Regions from separate parts of the Homo sapiens genome. Here regions 1 and 2 are each linked to region 3. Evidence: fine-mapped expression QTL. A gene starts in region 3. Each other region holds a variant in brackets. All regions are shown on one strand. Distances are from middle to middle.

Region 1 (8,189 bases), 21 kb before region 3:
TTTGTTTGTGTCCTCTCTTATTTCCTTGGGCAGTTGTTTGTAGTTCTCCTTGAAGAAGTCCTTCACATCCCTTGTAAGTTGTATTCCTAGGTATTTTATTCTCTTTCTAGCAATTGTGAATGGGAGTTCACTCATGATTTGGCTGTTTGTCTATTGTTGGTGGATAGGAATGCTTGTGAATTTTGCATGTTGATTTTGTATCCTGAGACTTTGCTGAAGTTGCTTATCAGCTTAAGGAGTTTTTGGGCTGAGATGATGGGGTTTCCTACATATACAATTATGTCATATGCAAACAGAAACAATTAGACTTCCTCTCTTCCTATTTGAATATGCTTTATTTCTTTCTCTTGCCTGATTGCCCCAGCCAGAACTTCCAATACTATGTTGAATAGGAGTGGTGAGAGAGAACATCCTTGTCTTGTGCTGGTTTTCAAAGGGAATGCTTCCAGATTTTGCCCATTTCATATGATATTGCCTATGGGTTTGTCATAAATATCTCACTATTTTCAGATATGTTCCATCAATACCTAGTTTATTGAGATTTTTTTTAGCATGAAGGGATATTCAATTTTATCTAAGGCCTTTCTTTATTGAGATAATCATGTGGTTTTTGTCATTGGTTCTGTTTATGTTATGGATTATGATTATTGATTTGCGTATGTTGAACCAGCCTTGCATCCCAGGGATGAAGCTGACTTGATTGTGGTTGATAAGCTTTTTGATGTGCTGCTGAATTTGGTTTGCCAGTATTTTATGGAGGATTTCCGCATTGATGTTCATCAGGGATATTGGCCTGAAATTTTCTTTTTTTGTTGTATCTCTGCCAGGTTTTGGTTTGAGGGTGATGCTGGCCTCATAACATGGGTTATGGAGGAATCCCTCTTTTTCTATTGTTTATAATAGTTTCAGAAGGAATGGTACCAGCTCCTCTTTGTAGAATTCGGTAGAATTTGGCTGTAAATCCATCTGGTCCTGGGCTATTTTGGTGGGAGACTATTAATTACTGCCTTAATTTCAGAAATTGTTATTGGTCTACTCAGGGATTCGACTTCTTCCTGATTTAGTCTTGGGAGGATTTATGTGTCCAGGAATTTTTCCATTTCTTCTAGATTTTCTATTTATTTGTGTAGAGGTATTTATAGTATTCTCTGATGGTAATTTGTATTTCTGTGGGATCAGTGGTGATATCCTGTTTATAATTTTTCGTTGTGTCTATTTGATTCTTCTCTCTTTTCTTCTTCATTAGTGTAGCTAGTTGTCCATGTAATTTTGTTAATCTTTTCAAAAAACCAGGTCCTGGATTCATTGATTTTTTTGAAGAATATTTCATGTCTCTATCTCCTTCAGTTCTGCTCTGATCTTAGTTATTTCTTGCCTTCTGCTAGCTTTTGAATTTGTTTGCTGTTGCTTCTCTAGTTCTTTTAATTGTGATGTTAAGGTGTTGATAGGAAGGCTGGGCACCTTCCTATCAGGTAGATGGTCTAGAGCTCCAGACAGCACCAACTCCTCCTCATGGCCTCTTTCTCCTCCTACAACTCTTCATTCTCAAGCCTCAGCCCTTTCCCGAGATAGGAAGGACAAGACCATGTTTCAGGTTGGTTGTTTTCTCTTGTGAAATACCACCTCAGGCATCAGAAAGCAAACATACCTCCCCCGCTGGTAAAAGGAAAAAGAGTGAAAATGTATTGTGTGAATACATTACATTTCTATGTGAGGCAGAGTGTGTGATTCTGTTTTAGAGATGAAGAAAGGAATGGTGGATCTCAGACTTAAACCCAGGTCAGTACGACTTCATGATCTGCCTTTCTGCTCTGCTTGCTGCCTGCCTATGATAGCTTCATGCAAGGGCCCATGCCCAGATTATGCAGAGAGATGACTCTTAATGGTTGCACTCTTAGTGGTTAAAATAGGGTCTGACATAGTATCTATTGACTGGCCAAATGTCAGTAGTAGCCATTCGAGAGGCTGAATGTGATATACAGTCACTCCTGAGGGCCAAATTGCACAATCCCATGTTACACTGTGACTCTGGGGTTCAGTGCAACAGGCTTAGGTGTTTTCGGTATTCTTAGCAACACATCTGGATGCAAGAGATTGCTCAAGTCATCTTAAAGGCATAGTGTTACTTCACAAAGCCCTTATTATACTTGAGATATGTGCATTCAGGCTGACGACTGTCCTGAAGTATAGTTGCAACTTGTTTAGATCCACAAATGCTTCTGGGATATTGGTATCCTTTGTATCTGAACCCACCTTACCAAACGGCCACATCAACTTCTTGGTAGGACACAATGTTACTATCAGCATGAACCTTATATTCTGACCAGACCCATCTCCCCTACCAACCCACTCCAGTTAGAGACAACTTGCTTAATATCTGTCTCTATGTACTACCAGATTTTATTTCCAATGTTGTCCCCACAGACGGGCTGCTTTTACAACTCTGCAAATCCCCTTAAACTTGTATTAACCTTTCTACCATATAGCATTAAAAAAAATGACACCAGAGAGTAACACCTCATTTTATCTCATAGAAGGCACTGAATTCCTACCCCTACAGTAACCCATTGCACAACAGTTGCAGCTTTCTCTCCTTAACTGTCTGTATACCTTACTGCCACTGAAATCCTAGCAGCTGGGTGGCACCTGAGTAAACTTTAGGCAACCCCGTGAGACCTCAAGGACTGCAGACCCCAAAGTAGAAAAGAGACAACACAAGTGCACAAGGCAGACTCACTGTTGGCATGTCCATCCTATCCACATTAGTCTCCCATGATTACATAGGTGGTGTGGTTTTAAGATGTGACCCCTCCCCTTAAGTGTAGCCTAGACTTAGTACTCATGAATATAGCAGAAGTGATGGTGACTTAAGAGACTGGGTCATAAAAGGCACCCTGGCTTCTGGCTTGCTCTCTCCTTTCTGATTACTTACTCGGGGGGATGTCAGTTGCTACAAGATGAAGGCCTTTAGCCCTGGGAGGCCCACAAGGTGAGAAACTGAGACCTCTATTAACAGCCAGCAAGGAACTGAAGGCTCCTGCCTGAAGTGATCTTGGGAGCAGACCTTGTAGGCCCCAGTCCAGCATTCAGATGACTGCAGCCCCTGCCAACATTTGACAGCTGCCTCCA[C/G]AACACTGGGGGAGATACTGCCCAGAATTTGAGGAGTCTGCTGACAACCTCTGGGAATACAGAATGAGTTAAACTTTTCAGCCACAAACTTTGAGGTCTGAGGGGTGTCTGCATTTGTTCTGTTGGCCATAAAACCCTACATCCCAAGTGACTCTGCTGCAGTTCCATAAATTACTTTTCATCCCTACCCCTTGCCCCCTTCTGAAACCTTATTTCCCACGGTAAATACTTTGGTTATCTATATATAAAGTGCCTGTTCCCCACCTCTTGACATGTCTTCTCTCTTTGGCAGCTCCAGGCAGCAGAAGGCTCAGACCAGAGCAGACCCAGGTCTCCTGAGTCACCAAGACAGAGAGCTTATCCTGGAGGAACACATGATGGTGTGCTGCCCTCTACAAAACCAGGCTTGTGGGCTCACTAGTTCAAGAAGGCAGGACTGAAAAATGGAAACACCGTGGCTCCTAATTATCTAGACTGCCTCATCTCCTACCAGCCAGCAAAAATGATGTAGCCTCTGAGAATATTTACATCACTCATTTGTATGCCTTATCTTTGGTACAGGGAGTTGGGTGAACAGGAGAAAAAGCCAAAAAAGTTATAGAGGTTACAACATGAATCTTTAATCATAAGGGATTGTTCCATCAGGCTAATTTATAAAAAATAGCTCTACTGTTATTATAAAACTGAAAGATACTTTGTTACAAAGTAAAATACATAAAAGTACAACATATGTATTATACATTCAGAATCCCACCACTAGAGATAAGTAGTTATATGTCCTCTCCCACATCTTTTTTTCTCTGTTGCTCTAAACATACACACAGAAAAACATACTAACAAAATGGGGTCATGCTATAATTGTTGTTCTAAAACTCTCCTGGTTCACTAAATACTTCATGAGCAACCTGCATTGTCATTATCTGTGTGCCTGAAGATTTCTAGTGGCTTTCCATTGCATACATATGCCTGAACTTATCTAAAAAATTTCCTACCAATGGAAACTGGAATATTAACATTTGCTATTTTAAAAATGTTTTAAATTTAAAAACTCCACCTTCTGCATGCGTTTTTGCCCAAGTGGGCAACTATCTCCCAAGTATCAATTACTACATATTTACTGCCACTTCAAAGGTTATAGAAATTGAATTGATACGTTAATGAATTCTTTTGAAAACAATGCACGGATTTTCTCTCTCACCAATAAGTACATAAGACTTATTACGTCCATTTTTGCACTGCTATAAAGAACTACCTGAGACTAGGTAATTTGCAAAGGAAAGAGGTTTAACTCACACACAGTTCCACATGGCTGGGGAGGCCTCCGAAAACTTAGTCATGGCAGAACGCAAAAGAGAAATAAGGACCTTCTTCACAAGGGGACAGGAGAGAGACAGCGAGGAAGGGCTACACCTTAAAACCATCAGCTCTCATGAGAACTCACTATCATGAGAACAGCAAGGGAGAAATCTGCCCTCGTGATCCAATCATCTCCCACCAAGGCCCTCCTCTGACACGTGGGGATTAAAATTGAGATGAGATTTGGGTGGGGACAAGAGCCAAACCATATCAGACTGTTTCTACAACCCCCCCCCCCGCCCCCACTGATGGGGGATTTGATGATTCTATTTTAATACTGCTAACCTGCAGGGTGAAATAGCATTTGTGATTTTTAAGATACCTAATATTTGATATGTTAAACTATGAAATGAACTGGAGCAAAACCATTATATTCATGACAGCAATAAAACAAATTCCTAGAAATATGCTTAAGATGACTCAGAACCTATTTTTAACCATCTCTAAGAAATATTACTGAGGGACCATATGAAATACTATCAGTGGTAAAAAAAAAGTCATTTTTTTAAAGTGAAAAAAAATCAGCATTTCAAAGACGCCACATTCTTTCAAAATTAACCTATAAATTCAATGCAATGCCAATTAATAAATTTATTTAATTAATAATTCAATGCAATGCCAATCAGATTTTGCTTTTTGAACCTGGAAAGAAGACATATTTCTGTAGTGTACTACAACTCCTCTGAAAGCTGTAAAGCTTACCTGCAAGATAAAACAGTCATAAAAACATGATAAAAATGTGAGACACACACATCACCCAGATCTGCCAAGAGAACTTTGTTCCTGGTCTTCTCAGAGTGACTTGTTTCAATAAATGTTAATGTTATCTTTTTGTTTTTATAAAGCGATCTTTAAAAAGATATGTACCAAACTGGTTTTAGAAAGGTGGAAACTTGTTTCTACACTGTCCCATTGGTAGCTATCAACCCACACAAAGAATCTATGTCCATAATTAGCACCTTGGAAACATTCTCACCACTTGTACATTGTAAAAGCTCCCTCCCAGGCAGATTCTGATGGAAGTGAGGATTATTACTGAAACCACTGCTGCACTGTTTCTTTAAAGCCTACTCCGCTGCACAACAGACTCTTAAAGACTGAAGTTTGTAACTGAAGTGCTAACCTATTTATCACACATCCAGGTGTTCCCTTCCTATGCAGACTAGAAAATGTAAAATCATCAGTTTCTCCTATAGCCCTCCTACATGTCACTTTCCTATGGTTTTTCTCCTGTGTTGGCTCTCAGATGGATAGAAAGCTCTGAGTCCCAGATGGAATCCTCTATGTACATCTACTTATAAGGGTTCTCGCCTAAATGCACTCTTTGGTGGTTCCGCAGACCTGAGGTATAACTGAAGCCTTTCCCACACACACCACACGTATAGGGCTTCTCTCCAGTGTGGACTCTCTGATGAACATGAAGACAGGAGTTGCGGCCAAAGCCCTTCCCACACTCCTCACATTTATAGGGTTTCTCACCAGTGTGGACCCTCTGATGACCTTGAAGATGTGAGCTCTGACTATAGCCCTTCCCACACACGTGGCATCTGTATGGCTTCTCGCCAGTGTGCACTCTCTTATGACTAAGGAGACCTGAGCCATATCTGAAACCCTTCCCACATTCACAACAAGTGTAGGGTTTCTCTCCTGTGTGCAACCTCTGGTGGGTGCGAAGATTAGAGCCATAACTGAATCCCTTGCCACACTGATCACACGTATAGGGCTTTTTTCCCGTGTGGACTCGCTGATGTTTGTGAAGGCTTGATGTGCACCTAAAGCCCTTTCCGCACTCTTGGCATCTGTAAGGTTTCTCGCCTGTGTGGACTCTCTGGTGAATGAGAAGCCCTGAGCTGTAACTGAAGCCTTTGCCACACTCAGCACATTTATAGGGTTTCTCTCCAGTGTGGACCCTCTGATGGATAAGGAGGTCGGAGCTGTAGATGAAACCCTTCCCACACACGTCACACACGTAGGGCCTCTCTCCCGTGTGGACCCTCTGGTGGCTGTGAAGGTCTGAATTCCGCCGGAAGCCCTTCCCACACTCACTGCATTTATAGGGTTTCTCTCCTGTGTGGACCCTCTGATGGATGTGGAGGTCGGAGCTCCGGCCAAAGCTCTTCCCGCACTCGCATTTGTAGGGTTTCTCTCCTGTGTGCAGTCTCTGATGCATGAGAAGCCCTGAGCTGTAACTGAAACTCTTACCACACACGTTACATTTGTACAGATGCTGCCCCATGTGAACTCTCTGGTGAGCTTGAAGGTACGAGTTGTGACTGAAACCTTTGCCACACTTGTCACACTGGTAGGGCCTCTCGCCGGTGTGTGTCTTCTGATGACTGCTGAGGTGGGAGCTGCAGCTGAATCCCTTTCCACACTCGCCACAGCTGTAGGGCTTTTCTCCAGGGTGAATGTGCTGGTGTTTGTGCAGTGCAGACTTGGCACAGAAGCCTTTGCCACACTCGCTGCAGGTGTAGGGCTTCTCCCCTGTGTGCAGCCTCTGATGGACTTGAAGCACTGAGCTGTAACTGAAGCCCTTCCCACACTCGCTGCATTTATATGGTTTCTCTCCAGTGTGGACCCTCTGATGGACAAGCAGGTTTGAACTTCGACCAAATGCCTTCCCACACTCCTCACATTTATAGGGTCTCCTTCCTGTGTGCACCCCTTGATGAATAAGAAGAACCGATTTATACCTGAACCCCTTTCCACAGACATCACATCTATAGGGCATGTCTCCCACAGGGGCTCTGGGGTGGTTACGTATGTGCGTGTTCTGTCTGACGCCCCGACCACGCTCAAGACTCTTAACAGATTTCTCTCCTGTGGGAACTCTTTGATGTCTGTTAAGATGGGCACTGTGCCTCAAGCCCTCACTAAACTCATCATATTGACAGAGTTTCTCTTTCAAAGGTACTCTTGGATGCGGGGGAAGGTCTGCATCGTCCCTGAAGCCATTTCTGTATTCGTTACTTTTCAAGCCATTCTCTCCAGGGTTAATGCGATGAAGTACAGAGTTTTTAATGCAGTCTTTTCTGCATTTATTGCAACCACACGGCTTGTCTATTTCAGGGAATCTGTGATCAACATGACAAGATATCCAGCAAAAGCTGTCATCATCCCAGTTACATTTATATACTGTGTCTTCTGTGTCGAGATTTTTACATCTTTCTTGAACATCCCCTAACTGGTTCACAAACGCTTTTGCCCAAGATCCTTGAATGGGGATTGGTCTTATAGCTCTCCAGGCTGGAAACTGTTGATTTTCTAGACCGATAAGCCCATCCCCTTGTAGACTGTCCAGGAAATTCTCAATTGGAAAACACGGCGTAGATGCTCCTTCCCACCCTTGATGGGGAGCAGCATCTTCTGAGAACTGGAAGTCTTTTCCTTGCAGATTTACTCTACAGTCTTGGCTCCCAGGTAATTCACCTGCCACCTCTTCCCAGATTTTGCATGAGGAGAGCTCTTTGTGTGAAAAGAACCTTAATTCTTCATCTTGAATATACTCCGTATCCTTTCCATTCTTGTCTCCTATGAGGTTAAAGACAATTCAGAGATGAGAACTAGTAAAAGACTGGCTCAGGGACATCAGACTTTCAGACTTGAACTAATAATAGCCTAGAGAAAAATTAGGCTTTATGTATCATAACTATTAGAGCACTTATGTTTATGACAAGAGGAGGCTCCTATTAATAAGTTTTGAA
Region 2 (8,189 bases), 22 kb after region 3:
TGGTATTATCTAATACCCAGACAATAATCAAATTTCCCTGATTATCTCAAAAAAATTTTGACAGTTGCTTTGTTCAAATGGGATCTTAAAAAGGTCTATACTATCATATAGTTGGTTGTTGTATCTCATAATGTCTTTTAATCTAGAGAAATCTGCCCATCTACTTTATTCTCTCCTGCTGTTGACTTGTCGTAGAAACCAAGTTTGGTGTCCTGTGTTCTTTCCTACATTTGGAATGCATTTGTTTGCTTCCTTTTGGTGTCTTTCAGTGTGTTACTCTATCCACAGTATTTTTTGTAAGTGGAAGCACCAGATGCTTGAATAGATTCAGGTTCAAGGTTTTACAAGAATATTTCATAGATGGTTTTACAAGAATACTTCACAAAGGAAAAGATTTAAAGATGTTTTGCATGTATTTATTGGTTTATAAATTTGGTTTCTTAATATTTGGGGGCTGTCCTTGTACCTGCATCCTATGGCATTCCCTGCCTAGGATTCCTACCACCCCAAGTAGGCTTCAGGGTATCTGTATTTCCTGAATGATTAATTCCAATTCAATTTTGTTGCCTCCCACAGAAGAAGGATACAGTAGTGTTACTGACAGAGCAGTGCTATTAGGACAACTGTGCTGACTCCCCTAGATTTTGTTTTTAATCATTGTCAGATTTTGGTAATTGGACAATTGTTAGTAACATATTCTTTTTGAAGTCCTTTATAACTGCTTACAACTTTCGTTTGAAAGCTCTGCTTTATTTAGAGATGCAGAATCTATTGAGAGAACATATCTGTAAATACTCGACTCTGAGCAGTGTGACATATGCAGTGATAGAAATATTTTATGTAAAAATTGGTGTCTTGATTAGGAGATGGTTATTAATATCAGATTATTCCCCGCATCCTTTTATTTTAAGAAATTTCAATTTATCGAGAAAATGAAAGAATAGCATAATGTGTAATCTTCACCTAGATTCACCAATTGTTAACAATCACCACAAACATATGCATAATATGTGTATATACACACACATATCTATATTTTATTTTGATGACCCAGTTGGGATAAATTGCAGACATCATTATAATTCATCCCTAAATATGTCAGTTTATATCTCCTAAGAATAAGAGCATTTTCCTACATTTCCACATTACTGCTAACATACTCAGGAAATTTCACATTGATACCATTATTTTTTAATAGTTGATATCCAAATGTTCTAAATTATCCTAATAATCTCCCTCTTCCCTTTTCTGTTTTTTGAATCTAGGAGCCAATGCTTTAAGTTACCCTGTCTTCTTACTTTCCTTTAACATGATAAAAATAGATTAATCTGCCATGAAAAAGTGAAAATACCAAACCTTGGTGTGTGATGGGAAATGAACTCATGAAACACTACTGGACTTATGTATCAGCACAACACCTTAGTATAGATTTATCTGCGCCTGTGTCCTGGGCCATATTTTATAATTTGATTAATATTGTCCTTTGGGAATCCCTGATTCAATAGGATTAGTATCCTTATGAAAAGAGACTCAACAGAGCTTGCTCTCATTCTCCCTCTGCCATGTAAGGACACAGTGAGAGGACAGCTGTCTACAAGCCAAGAGAAGAAACCTGAATGAAACCTATCTTGGTGGTACTTGATCTTAGACTTTCCAATCTCCAGAACTGTGAGAAATAAGTTTCTTTTGTTTGTTTAATCTAACCCAGACTATGGTATTTTATTAAGGCAGCCCAAACAGACTAAGACCAGTCATTTGTGTGGATGATTGATGTGGCATGTGGTTGATGTTTTAGGAAAGGGTGATATTCAAGGACGTGGCTGTTGTCCTCACCAAGGAAGAGCTGGCACTATTGGATAAAGCCCAGATAAACCTGTACCAAGATGTGATGTTGGAAAACTTCAGGAACCTCATGTCAGTGAGTGAGTAACTGAGCATCAGACCACTGGACCTGTTTCCTCAAATCATCATTTCAAGCCAGATAGAATATTCCAGTTAGACCACAAAGAGAAACTTTGACCACTGGAGAGAAAAATCCTAAGAGCTGCATGCACAAGTTAGGACCCTGCAGTTAATGAGCTTTTACAGATCATTGTGAGGATGTGGCTCCTTGTGATGGGTTTGTGAGGGAGCTCTCCCCAAATCTTCCACCCCTGGCCTGTGGGCATTCATTGCAGGAAGTAAGCCCTTCCTCCCCTACTCACATATTTAGGCTCTCATTCTTTCCTCATATTTCTCAGAATGAGACTGATAAAATTCACACACCACCAAGGACCTTGATCTATTTGTTGCTTCTGGAGAAAAGTCAATGTTTATCCAATGTTCTGGATAAACCAGTGTTAATGGAATCATGGGAGAACTTTGATTTTGTTGGAAGTTACAACAGCCAACACTTATGGGTATATAGTAAGTGTAATCTAAGTGTTGGCTTATTTGATTACTTTTTGATAAATATCCAACCTCATTTTCATTTCTCAAAGTTTCATGTACAGTTAGGTATTACCTAAGTTTAGTTTATAAGATAGTGATATGGTTTGGCTGTGTCCCTACCAAAGTCTCATCTTGAACTGTAGTTCCCATAATTCCCATAGGTTGTGGGAGGGGCCTGGTAGGAGGTAACTGAATCATGGAGGGGGGTCTTTCTCGTGCTGTTCTCATGATAGTGAATAAGTCTCATGAGATCTGATGGTTTTATAAATGGGTGTTCTGCACAAGATTTCTCTTTGCCTGCCACCATGTAAAACGTCCCTTTGCTCTTCCTTTGCCTTCCACCATGATTGTGAGGCCTCCCCAGCCATATGGAACTGTAAGTCAATTAAGCCTCTTTCATTTATAAATTACCCAATCTCAGGTATGTCTTTATTAGCAACGTGAGAACAGACTAATACAGATAGTTGATGTTATTATCCCCCTTTTATGGATGTATTACTCTGTTTTCACACTGCTGATAAAGACATATCCAAGACTGGGCAATTTACAAAATATGAAGGTTTAACGGACTTACAGTTCCACGTGGCTGGAGATGACTCACAATGATAGCGGAGGTGAAAGGCACGTCTCACATGGTGGCAGACAAGAGAAGAGAGCTTGTGCAGGGAAACTCCCCTTTCTAAAACCATCAGATCTCATGAGACTCATTCACTGTCATGAGAACAACACAGGAAAGACCCACCCCCATAATTCAGTCACTTCCCACTGGGTTCCACCCATGACACATGGGAATTGTGGGAGTTACAATTCAAGATGAGATTTGGGTGGAGACACAGCCAAACCATATCATCCGCCCCAGACCCTCCCAAATCTCATGCCCTCACATTTCAAAACCAATCATGCCTCCCAACAGTCCCCCAAAGTTTTAACTCAGTTCAGCATTAACTCAAAAGTCCACAGTCCAGTGTCTCAACTGAGACAAGCCAAGTCTCTTCCACCTATGAACCTGTAAAATCAAAAGCAAGGTAGTTACTTCCTAGCTACAGTGCAGGTACAGGCATTGTGTAAATACAGCTGTTCCAAATGGGAGAAATTGGCCAAAACAAATGGGCTACAGGCCCCATGCAAGTCTGAAATCCAGCAGGGCAGTCAAATCTTAAAGCTCAAAAATGATCTCCTTTGACTCCATGTCTTGCATCCTGATCACGCTGATGTTGGGTTTCCATGGTCTTGGGCGGCTCCGCCCCTGTGGCTCTGCAGAGTATAACCTCCCTTCTGGCTGCTTTCATGGGCTGCTGTTGAGTGTCTGTGGCTTTTCCAGGCACATGGTGCAAGCTGTCGGTGGATCTAGCATTCTGGGGTCTGAAGGACAGTGGCCCTCTTCTCACAGCTCCACTAGGCAGTGCCCTGGTAGGCACTGTGTGTGGGGGCTCTGACATGTGGGAATTATGAGACACAACATATAGGAATTATGGGAGTTACAATTCGAGAAGAGATTTGGGTAGGGACACAGCCAAGCCATATCAATGGATGAAACAACTGAGTCACAGAATTAATAACTTGCCCACAATCACACAGCTTATAAGAAGAACTAGGATTTGAACCCTCCTAATCTGGTCCTAGGTCCTGTGATTTTAATAAATAACCTCATGAAACCAAAGCGTAAACTGTAGACACAGGACCTTTTGCATAAATCTGCATATCTCTGCAGTTGTTTCTCAAACTGCAGGATAAAACCCTCTTGGTGAGTCCTGAAATCAAATTACTGTGTCATAACTAGCAATTTTTAAAAAGCAAAATAGATTAATAGAACAGAAAACAAAAGAATTTATCAAAGTACATTGCACACAGTATGTAACTATCAGCTGAGCAAGTTTTAGTGAGCAGTCTGTGTTGATGTTTGTGCCTATTCCTACTGAGTCACAATGCTGATTTTACTGTGGGTTACAATCAAAACAATTGGGAAACCACTGCTTAAACCCTATTCAGGGCAGCTCGTGGTCTCCCTTTCCCTGATACTATCTTATAAACTAAAGTCACTTTCAATAAAACAACCCAGAAAGGACCTTGAACCAGAAGCAGTATCCAGTGGGACTTGACCATGATATTCATGCCATTTTGAAACCCATCTTAGGATCCCAAGAATATGATCGTCCTCTTCTGCCTCAGCCCCCTGTTTGTTATATACCACAGTCTTGCTTCCCTGGGTGCCAGGCCATTGACAGTGCCACAGTATCTGTTCCCCATTTTCATAGTCATGGCTGTTTGAGATTCTGCAACAACTTAAAAGGGCAGAACTTAAGGAAATGGATTGTAGGATCTGAGTGGTCTCTATCTTTTCATGAAGACAAAGAACCTTGGGGAAAATAAAAAGGATGTCTCTTAAAGCTTGTCTCAGAGGTTTACATACGCATCCCCGCACAACGCCAGGACCATATTTCACAATGTTTACCCCATTTCAATCCCCATTGCCTTTTTATCCCCATCCCCTTTAGGCTCACCATGTACAGTTGTGCAGGTTGTACACAAACATACATGATAGTCCTCCATATGACAGTGATGTGAAGGAAGGGAAGC[C/T]ATCAGGAGATAGGACTTGTTGCTTGTTTCTGAAACCTCTTGTGACCCTTTGTGTCCCTTACTCTGCCCAACATATAAAAAACACTCCATCAATATGTATTATTTATATACACACACACACTACATAAAATGGGAGCCTTTCCCATACCTTTTGTAGCAAGATTATTAAAGGCTTTTTATCGACTACTCTTATAGCAGGGAGGTGAATTTCTTCCTTCATAAATTTTTCCTAAGATTTCCTTTTTTTTCTTTTTTGCAGAGTAGGGGTGGAAAGGTCTTGCTCTGTCACCCAGGCTGGAATGCAGTGGCACAATCTTGGCTCACTGCAACCTCTGCCTCCCAGGATTAAGCAATCCTCCAACCTCAGATTTCCAAGTGGCTGGGATCATAGGCAAAACTGAGCCAATTTTTAATTTTTTTGTAGAGATGGGATCTCATCATATTGCCCAGCCTGGTCTTGATCTCCTGGGCTTGAGTGATCCTCCCACCTCAGCCTCTCAAAGTGTTGCTATTACAGGCATGAGCCACTGCACCTGGCCAAGATTTCTTTTAATTTCCCTACAACACTTGATTTCCAATTGGCAGCTCACAGGTTAGAATTACCGTGGCTCTAATTGTTTCATATGTCAATAGAAGCCAGGGACAACTTCCCACCCCATCATATTTCGTTTTCTCAAAACCTCTGGACAGATGATTGACTTGGTCTCTTAGCCACATTCTCTTTCTTCTCATAAGAGATGGGATTAAAAACAACATTTTGAATCTTCAGGAAAAGGGGTTGAATTACCTTTTACAAGAAGTGCTTCATTGCTGGCAGATTTCGAAACAAAGGATCCAGGATTTAACTGGGAGTCAGGATTATATCATGAACCTTCAAGAAGAGTGTTCCCCACATTTAAAAATGTTTCCCTCTGTGAAGAGTGAGCAGGCAAGTCTCTTCAGATTTCTGAAAATGAAAACTATGTAGCAAATGTCATTATCAAAAATCAGGATATCACAGCATGGCAAAGCCTGACACAGGTTCTTACCCCAGAATCGTGGAGGAAAGCCAACATAATGACCGAGCCCCAGAACTCTCAGGGAAGATATAAGGGAATTTACATGGAAGAGAAATTGTACAGACGTGCTCAGCATGATGACAGCCTCAACTGGACCTCACATGATCATCATGAGTCCCAAGAATGTAAAGGAGAGGACCCTGGTAGACATCCCAACTGCAGGAAAAACTTTGGTATGAAATCAACAGTTGAACAACATAATGCAGTCCATGTATTACCACAGCCTTTCACATGTAATAACTGTGGGGTGCCCTTTGCAGATGATACAGATCCTCATGTCCATCACAGCACTCACCTAGGAGAAAAATCTTATAAATGTGACCAGTATGGAAAGAACTTTAGTCAGAGCCAAGATCTTATCGTTCATTGTAAAACTCACTCTGGCGAGACTCCCTATGAATTCCACGAATGGCCTATGGGCTGCAAACAGAGCTCAGACCTTCCCAGATATCAGAAAGTCCCTTCAGGAAACAAACCCTACAAATGTAAAGAATGTGGCAAGGGCTTCAGGTGCAACTCCTTCCTTTATAACCATCATGGAGTCCACACAAGGGAGATGCCCTACAAATGTGATGCATGTGGGAAAGGGTTTGGATTTAGGTCACTTCTTTGTATTCATCAGGGAGTACACACAGGGAAAAGCCCTATAAAAGTGAAGAGTGTGGGAAGGGCTTTGATCAGAGCTCCAACCTTCTTGTCCATCAGAGAGTCCACGCTGGAGAGAAGCCCTACAAATGCAGTGAGTGTGGCAAGTGCTTTAGTTCAAGCTCCGTTCTTCAAGTCCACTGGAGGTTTCACACAGGGGAGAAACCTTATAGGTGTGATGAGTGTGGAAAGGGCTTCAGCCAAAGTACACACCTTCACATTCACCAGAGAGTCCACACAGGGGAGAAACCATACAAATGCAATGTGTGTGGAAAGGATTTTGTGTATAGCTCTGTTCTTCACACTCATCTGAGTTCACACTCGAGAAAAACCATATAAATGCAAAGTGTGTGGAAAGTGCTTTAGTTACAGTTCATATTTTCACTTACATCAAAGAGATCACACCAGAGAGAAACCATATAAATGTGATGAGTGTGGTAAAGACTTCAGTCGGAATTCAGATCTTCGTGTTCACCTCAGAGTCCACACAGGAGAGAGGCCCTATAAGTGTAAGGCATGTGGTAAGGGCTTCAGTCGTAATTCATACCTCCTTGCCCATCAGAGAGTGCATATAGATGAGACACAGTACACACATTGTGAGCGTGGCAAGGACCTTCTGACTCATCAAAGACTACATAAGCAGAGAGAAACATTATAAAGGTAGTAAGTCAGGGTTCAATTAGGAAAACAGAAGCCACACTGTATTCCAGATGATAGAGGCTAACTCAGCCTTTGGGAGGGCTGGGGGAGCAAAAGACAGGGACGCTGCCATCGATGAGGTCAGCATGACAGGCTGGGGGTTCGCGCTGGCACAGGCGCCGGCAGCCACATCGGCAGGCAGGAGGGTCCCGCTGCACAGCTGAGGGGTGATGATTGCCTGGGTGGTGATGTCGGCCATTAGACGCGCCTCTTCTGCCGGCAAGTGTGTGGCAGTATGAAGTAGAAGGACAAGCCTGTATTTGAGGCTGGAATGCGGAAGGGGCTCTTCTGCGGCTAGGTGTGGGACCCTGAGCAGGAATGTGGAGAAATGGGCAGGTAAATGCATCACGTTGGCCAGGAGATTTGCAAGGACTTACAGCTGAATGATGATAATGGGGAGTGACTGTGAGGCCCTGGGAGTCTCTGAGTGTAAAGGAAGATAGGTGTGGGGCCCCCAGGGAGTATGTGGGAGCCATTGCTGTGTAGGTGGAGGTAGTTGGGGAATAATCTGGTGAGCTCTGTGAATTTCTAGGGTTCTCCTGAATGCTGAGGGGTGACTCTTGCAGAAAACTGAGGATGCTTGGAGAATAGCTGGGAGACACAGATGAGGCCCTAAGGAATGGTGGTATAGAGGTGACAGAGATAAGGGAGGAGCACAGTGAGGTCTATGAGTTTCTGGGTGACTCCTGTGTGTTCAGGGCTGACCCAAGGAGAAATCTGGGGATGGTTGGAGAGGAGCTGGGAGACACAGGAGAGTCCCTGAGGGTTGCAGGTGAAGAG
Region 3 (8,189 bases):
GATATAGATTAGAGCCATCTTTAGTCAGCGTTTTTAACTTTTTTTGTGCCATGGCCCCCCTTCACTAATCTGATGATACCTAAAGATCCCTACTGAGAATAAAGTTTTAAATGCATAAAATGAAATGCAAAGAATTATATGGAAATACAACCTTCAAAACTATTAAAACTCTGCATGGCTCACTGTGCAAGTATAGTGCCACTTTATTAATACATTCAATATAAACAATAAATTTAACTACAATTTCAAAAGAGTAATGAGCATAAACAATACTCTGAAATATTTGCACAAACCAGAATATGACATAAAAATATCTATGATGTATATGGATGACAAAGTCACAAGTACTGCTAATAATATTGTGGCTTAGCACCTATGTTCACAATGAAATGCTACTTGTGACTTAGACTAGTATAATTTTTTTCCCATTCAAATTCATGGAACTCCTGAGTTATGCTCATGGAGCCCAGGGCAAGAATTCCTTTTCAAAATTAAGCCTCTTCTGCCCCGCCCCACCCCCCAGACTGAATTAATTACTCTGGGATCCAGCAACACATGGTATAAATTGCTGGTTACCACCTTTCACACGGCCTCCATGGTCAGATCTCTAAGTCATCAAAATAATTGAGTCTTCTTTTTCTTTATTTACCTTTCATGGCTCTGGCACACGGGAAGCACTTAAGGGTCCTAAGCAATTCTATCAGCAGGAGGTGATGCACACAGATTGAACAAAACTCTTACAATCTGCTCAGAGCTACTCGGGAGGTAGTGCAAAGACAGTGGACATGAGTTTCCACCCTTCCCCACCTTGCCTGGCCTCTTTCCTCTTGAAATTCAAGTCTCAAGGTCAAGTTCAGACAAACAGATACACATACTTGGGCTGTCTACTCTAGGACACTCACTGGATTTTACTGCTTCAGGAACTCAAATCTCCTTCTTTCCTCTAACCATCTGTACCAGCCCTCTGCATGGCCCACAGTGACAAGCATCTTTCTCTCTCCCTCCCTTCATGCACTGCCCTGAACTGGGGATTGCCCTTTGACCCAGGTGTGGACAACCAGGCAACACGCTACCCTCCTACACAAAGGACAAAGGGAAGAGTAGAGGCCAGATCTGAAACAAGGCCTCCACCGCAATGCCACTTAAACTCAAACTTCAGGATCCTCTAGGACTGCGCTTTGCAAACTTCAGTATGTTTAAAAATCACCATGAGCAATGATGAAAACAGACTGCTAGAGTCCAGCTCCAAAGATTCTAATTCTGTATCTCTGCAGTAGAGCCCAGGAGTCTGTGTTTTAAACGTTTCCAGGGGATGCTGACAAAGTGAGTCCAGGGGCCACACCTGAAGCAAACTTGCTAAGTTACCCTCACTTCCTCTGACTGGCTGATTTTCAGGGTTTCCAGAGACTTCCGGTGGGTAAAAATTTTCCTTGTGCTTCCTCCTCCTATCCCTGAACTCTTCAGGTCAGGAAGCCTCAAGAGTCAGCACATAAAGTTCTCTATCTTCTTTCACTCCCTTGGTGAACATATCCAGCCTCAGGCCTTCAACACAATCTACACACTGATGACTCCATGGCAACCTGCCATCTCCACTCTTATGTCTAAAAAGCAACTCAAAAAACATGTTCAAAAGAAAAGTCCAGATTTGCCCCTAGAGGTACTTCTCTCCTTTGAAATGAAGAGGAAATATTCTAGTCATCCTTGATTTCTTCCTCGTACTCTACATCCAATCCATCAGCAAATACCTACAAATCAGAACCAGAATCAGATTATTCTTGCTGCCACCGTCCACACCATCATGTCTCACCTGCATTAACGTGACAGCCCCCTAAATGGCCTCTGCATTCCTACTCCTGTTCGTTTCAGTCTACTTCCTACACAGCAGCTGGAGTGATCTTTTAAAAATATAAACTCATATTCTTCTCTGGCCAAAACCATCATTTTACTCAAAACCTTGCACCAAGGTCCTTTCAATGGCCCAAAGACCTTACACTATCTTCCTTCCCAATATTCAGTTTCCCACTTATCCTCCCTCTTTCTCATTCTGCTCAGCTCTGGCTTCCTTGCTGTTCTTCACATGCCCTCATCACCGGGCCTTCGTGTTGTTCTCTTTGCCTTTTTCATCAGATGCCTGCAGGCCCCTCACCTGCTTTGGGTCCCTATTCAAGCACCATTTTCTCAGTGAAATTCATCCCTCATTATCCTTCTCAAATTGGCAAACCAGCACTTCCTACACCCTCCTCTGCTTCATTTTTCTCCATGAAACTGACACCCTACCTACAGTCTATTTTTCTTGTTGACCATCTTTCTCCACCCACAAGAATGTGAACTCTATGAGGGCCAGTATTTCAGTTGGCACCTGGCACACAGCAGGTGCTCAATAAATATTTAAATGGGAGAACGGGAGTAACCTGAACTCAGCTTGCTGATATGGATCCTTGGGTCCTCTTGATGTCATCTTCACAGCAGAAGTGATTTTCTTCTCCAGTTCATGGACTTAGTAATTTGGGTGCTAAGGACTATGCTGGCTGTGTTGGGACCCAAGAGTGAACAGGGCAGACAACGACTCTGTGCTCATGCAGCTGCTAACATTCTAGGTGGAAATCAGCAGCCATAATGAATATCTACTGTGTTCCATGTGCTTAGGATACATTTCTGGACTGCATGGAGCTCACATTGGGGGAGAAAGAGGGTGACAGAAAGAGTTGGTACAAAGGCAGTGGGACAAAGAAGTAATGGGAATAAGAGATAATTGCAGAGGTAGAAATAACAAAACTAAAAGAATAATTCCATGTAGGGATGAAGAGGAGGAGAAATAAATATGATTCTGAGGTTGAAGTCTGAGGAAAACAGGTAAATTATGAAGTTATGATAAAATAATAAGATAGCAAAAGGGAAAGCAGGGTTTTGAAAATTGCAGCTCTAGTTTCTCAAAACTGGAGTTATCAAAAGGTTTAGGTTCGAATTCTGGTTCAGCCACTTTGTAGTTATATTAACACCACAGGAGAGACTTAACCTTTTGAATGAGTCTGTACTTCTGTCAAATAAAGATAATCCTTACTTGCAAAACTAAAATAATTTAAGTTTTTCTCTCTTTCACACACACATGCCTATGTGAATAAACTTCAAAGCCCAGTACGTGGTACACAGAAAATCATCAATATACTATTACCATTGACCCAACCCAGCATTAACCTAGGAATACAGGAACTCATGCATTTAGTAAATGTACATTCAGTGTCTAACAACATCTTAGGAGAATAAACACTAGACATACAGCAGTAAATTAAGATGGAAAAGGTAATTGTTCTCATGGTGCTTACTTTCGGGTGGGTTAATCTCTCTACAAATTAGGTGACCTTTGGTTGCAAAAAGGGCTATGAAGAAAATAAAGCAAACATGATAGATTCCTGTTTTCCAACAAGAATGTAGGTGCTATCAGGTGAACATATGTGGCAGCTGTGGAAAGAGCAACATTAAATCAGGTGGTCAGGGACAGTCTCTAAGAGCTGCCTGACAAATAAATCAGCTGTGAAAAAAGCTGGGATGAGACAAGTCCAGAAGGAAGCATAAGCGCAAAGACCTGGTTTCTGTTTAGAAGGTCTCCTGGCCAGGTCTTACCTGTTAAGTTTTTTTAACTTTTTAAACCTTAGCAACTCATCTGTGACATGGGGATAATAGCTAACATACAAACTTGCTCAGAAAATTCAATAGAAATACATTCATTTATTCAAATATTTATTGGCAAGCCTGGCACTGTCCTAGACACCATGGATAAATAATACCTGGCATATAGTAAGCACTCAGTTAATATACACCATCACAGTTACTCTAATTATTTCTACCCTGCGTTTCTTCAGCATGGCGCTGAAACAGTGTAAGCCTTTACTGACCCAGTGACACACTACTAGGAGCCAAGAAGAGAATACACTAAATAAAGACACTGGGAAATTCCTCAAACCTCCCCCATTTCTAGGGGAAGGCAGGTGTGGCTAAGGGGTCTGAATGAACATTTGTGATATCAATGGGATGAAGAATGAGGTCACCAAGAGACCTGGCATTGCCACAAAAGAGAACCAAAGTTCACTCACCTGGAGCTCTAGTGTCAAGAGATGTGGGGTTATTTCTCCTTCTTTTATACAATTATCTCCGAGAAACGAACAATTCCAAGAAGGAAGCCTGTGAAAGAAAAATGAACAGCAGGATAACATGATTTAATCCCAATTCCCACCACGCCACAGGGGGAAATCTCTCAGTGCCAGCTGGATGTAATCTACCCCTTCCTGTAATCTACCCTCGCTACTTGCTTCAGGAGCCGAGGAAAAGAACCTCTCTTCCTACAGGACTCAGAGTACAAGGGACACGCCATTCCTGATGCCCAAAGAAACCGTCTACAAGCCTACTTTCACTGCCCCTTTCAGGAGACAAGGAGAATCAAGACAAAATCTCAAGATTTTAATCCAGAGCTGACTGTCACATGCTGTGGGACACTTACAAGTGAAATTCTGCCTGTGTGTGCTTAGGCGGCTACAAAAAGCAGAGCCAGCAACGATACAGCAAACCAACTCCTAGGACTTGCACAGCGCTTAATACATTTCAAAGGATAAAATTAGAACACAGGGAATCAACTTCCTGTTTACAGAAATGACTTCGCAGAAAACTCTGAAATTACTCCACAAGTGGGTGGGCGGCTACCCTGAGAAAATTCATGTCATCGATCCGCAACTGACACAGTGGAGTCTCCCGCACTGCAGATCTCATCTCAAAGCCAGAGCTGGCCTCAAACTGCTTTTCCAAGCCTGGACTGCGAGGGCTGCCGACCCGGGCCCACCCCGCACAGGCGCTCAGAATGTTCGATACGTGCGCCTCCTTACACCCCTGCCTCACCAGGCCGAGCTCATGGAAATCCGTGGGCTTCGACCCTCCGCCGCACGTTGTCCCTTCACACTGGTCCTATAGAGCCGATCCTAATTCCCATGGCCTGACAGTACAACCGCATGGAGATGCACGTCTCTAAGACGCCTCACCACTGCCTAAGAAGCAATCAAGGTGACGCGCCCACCGGAAACGGAAGTAGTCGACTCGAGGTGTGGGACTACCTTTCCCAGAACCCTCCGCAGCGCAGTCCGATCCTAGGGGCGATGGTGTCGTAAATGCGCGTCCACCTCGAGTCACGCCCACTGCGAGGCGGCGGGAGGCGGCATGCAAGGTGTTTCTGAGTTGAAAAGAATGTCTTTACTCAGTACTAACATATTCGCGTTGTAGCAAACCTGACTATATTCTCAAACAAGCCCATCATCCCATCACCAGGGATATAAAGCATTATTGATTTTCTGGTGTAAAAGCCAACTAAATATTTATTTCAAAAGTAGTTCATATTACATGTAAAGAATGGTTTAAAAAAAATTCTTACTTAATCCCTGGTTTATGTGAGTAAATATGAATTCTTAAGAATCCCATTTCCCAAATGGCATCATAATATTTTGTAATCATTTCTTGCCACAGGTCATATATCGTGGATAGTTCTGTATGTCACAAAAGACGTAGAGATACATAGAGATAATAAAAAAACACAAATTATTTGCAATACTTGCCTAGCATTCTTTAGTTTTTAGGGAAGTTACCCCTTTGTCCTGCATTGAACTTACACTTCTAATTTTATGATATCAAAACTACACACAATCACTTTCTTTAATATTTTCCCAATTTGATGGACTAAATATCCTGTCTTATTTTCCCAATTTGACAGAGTAAATATGCTTATTACCGATTGCATTTCATTGTCATCTTTTATTGTCATACACTCTCTGTGTATGAATGATATCGCTTCTAAGTGATGAATTGCTCCCCCAGTTTCAACATTTATAAAGTAGTTTAGAAAAAAAAAAAAACAAAAAACTTCATCTGACAAGGTATATCAGTCTTTTCATTTGTGGCTTCTTTTTTTTCTCCAGTATGACCAAAAAGACATTCCTTAGCCTGATTCCCAATAAGTGCATATCTATATTCATTTCAGGCTCTTTCATTTTTCTTTTGAATCACCGCGTGATTCATTTAAGTGTATGATATGAAAGGAAGATGGAGTTTCCTGTTTCACCAAAGGATTGTCTACTTTTCTTAACAAAATTTACATAAATATTAATTCTTTCCTTTCTGATTTAAACGGCATCCTAATCACTTACTACATTACTATATATATAATGAAATATTTTCTGGGATACAAGTGTGTTCTGAAGATAGAGATTGCTTTTTCTGTGCCATGATGAAAGGTTTCAGTTACAGTGATAACTCATTTCCTTATCTCTCCCTCCTTGTTGTGTTTCAAAAATTTCATCCTAGAAGTTCTAGAACTCTCTCTTATAAACAGATTATCGAATTGTTTTGATAAATTCTAAAAAATTGCCAATTGACTCCAAAGCATCCAAGCCCTTCAGATATTTGGTTCCAAACCCACCCCTCTTTGCTTGGGTAGACACAGTCCTACTTCCCATCCTGTGTCCTCCAGTTTTACAAATGTCTGAATTTGCTGCTATTGTTCTTCCCTCTGTAAGTCCATCCTTTCCTGTACTATTAAAATCTTACTCCATATTTAAGACACAACTTGAATATAATTTCCTCTATCGAGTGTTTTTGAACTCTATATCATAATTCAATGAACAGATCAGTCTGTGATTGGGAGAATTTCATGCGAGTGTAGTGGATGTTAAATACCACTCTCAGAACATTCTCATTTCCCCGAGAAATCAATAAATTATATTACTCTGGGATCCAGCAACACATGGTTTAAATTGCTGGTTACCACCTTTCACATGGCCTCCATGGTCAGATCTCTAAGTCATCAAAATAATTGACTCTTCTTTTTCTTTATTTTCTTTATTTACCTTTCATGGCTCTGGCACATGGGAAGCACTTAAGCAATTCAATCAAGTGTCTTGGCCGGGCACGGTGGCTCATGCCTGTAATCAGAGCACTTTGGGAGGCCGAGGCAGGCAGATCACGAGGTCAGGAGATCGAGACCATCCTGGCTAACACGGTGAAACCCCATCTCTACTAAAAATACAAAAAAGAAAACAAAAAAAATTAGCCGGGCATGGTGGGGGGTGCCTGTAGTCACAGCTAGTCAGGAGGCTGAGGCAGGAGAATAGTATGAACCCGGGAGAAGGAGCTTGCAGTGAGCCGAGATCAAACCACTGCACTCTAGCCTGGGCGACAGCGCAAGACTCCATCTCAAAAAATAATAATAATAAAATAAACATAAAAATAATTATTTTAAAAAGGTGTCTTGACCTGGAAGCTAAGAGCCAACCTGCACAAAGTGTGGGTAGATGAATCCATTCCAAGGCCCAAGGTAAATATTCAGCCTTCATCCTACCTCATACAAACTGCAAAACACTGTAGAAACCGTGTGTCAACTGAATTTGAAACTGCTGTAATTTCCGACTCCCTAACAGTTTTGTTATTGTTAAGAAAAAATAACCCAATTTTAAGTAGGCAAGGTATTTCCGTAGACATATCTTAAACGAAAATAAACAAATAGGCAAGAGACACATGAAATGACTCTCCACATCCTCAGTCATTAGGGAAATGGAAGTCAAAACAATGGTGCTACTTCACACTCACTAGAATGGTCAGGATTGAAAAGCAGAAAATAGGCTGGGCACAGTGGCTCACGCCTGCATCCCAGAACTTTGGGAGGCTGAGGTGGGCGGATCACCTGAGGTCTGGAGTTCGAGACCAGTCTAGCTAACATGGTAAAGCCCCTTTTCTACTAAAAATACAAAAAATTAGCTGGGTGTGGTAGCATGCATCCGTAATCCCAGCTATTCGGGAGGCAGAGGTTGCAGTGAGCCGAGATCGCACCACCGCACTCCAGCTTGGGCAACAAGAGTGAAACTAAATCACACACACACACAAAAAAAAAACAGAAAATAAAAAATGCTGACGATCATGTAAAGAAGCTGTAACATTCCGGCACTGCTGGTAGGAATTTCAAAATCTACAGCCATATTGGAAAATAATCTGGAAGATCCTCAACATGTTAAACATCATAGAAGTCTCCAAATGATGCAGCAATTCCACACCTAGGTATGAACCAAGAGAAAACATTTGTCCAAACTAAATATTGTACAGGAGTGTTCATAGCAGCATTATTCAAAGAAGTAGAAATCCATCACCTTAAACGGGTGAAT

The links. PIP is the estimated chance that this variant, and not a neighbour inherited with it, causes the effect.
Region 1: its variant is the best candidate, but not a certain one, in a credible set for the expression of ZNF229 in fibroblasts (GTEx, PIP 0.84).
Region 2: its variant is the best candidate, but not a certain one, in a credible set for the expression of ZNF229 in pancreas (GTEx, PIP 0.83).

What each region holds. Positions count from the first base shown.
Region 1 is chr19:44,422,527-44,430,715 of GRCh38, forward strand. ZNF229 (zinc finger protein 229) reads right to left here. Exons shown (of 6, transcript NM_014518.4): 6 at 3,728-8,016. The coding sequence ends at 5,777. Among named protein-coding and RNA genes, the nearest start is that of ZNF229, 22 kb to the right of the region's middle. The variant C/G (reference allele first, on the strand shown) is at 3,130.
Region 2 is chr19:44,465,861-44,474,049 of GRCh38, forward strand. It overlaps the pseudogene ZNF285BP. Among named protein-coding and RNA genes, the nearest start is that of ZNF229, 21 kb to the left of the region's middle. The variant C/T (reference allele first, on the strand shown) is at 5,008.
Region 3 is chr19:44,443,422-44,451,610 of GRCh38, forward strand. ZNF229 (zinc finger protein 229) reads right to left here and starts at 5,051. Exons shown (of 6, transcript NM_014518.4): 1 at 4,888-5,051; 2 at 4,092-4,179.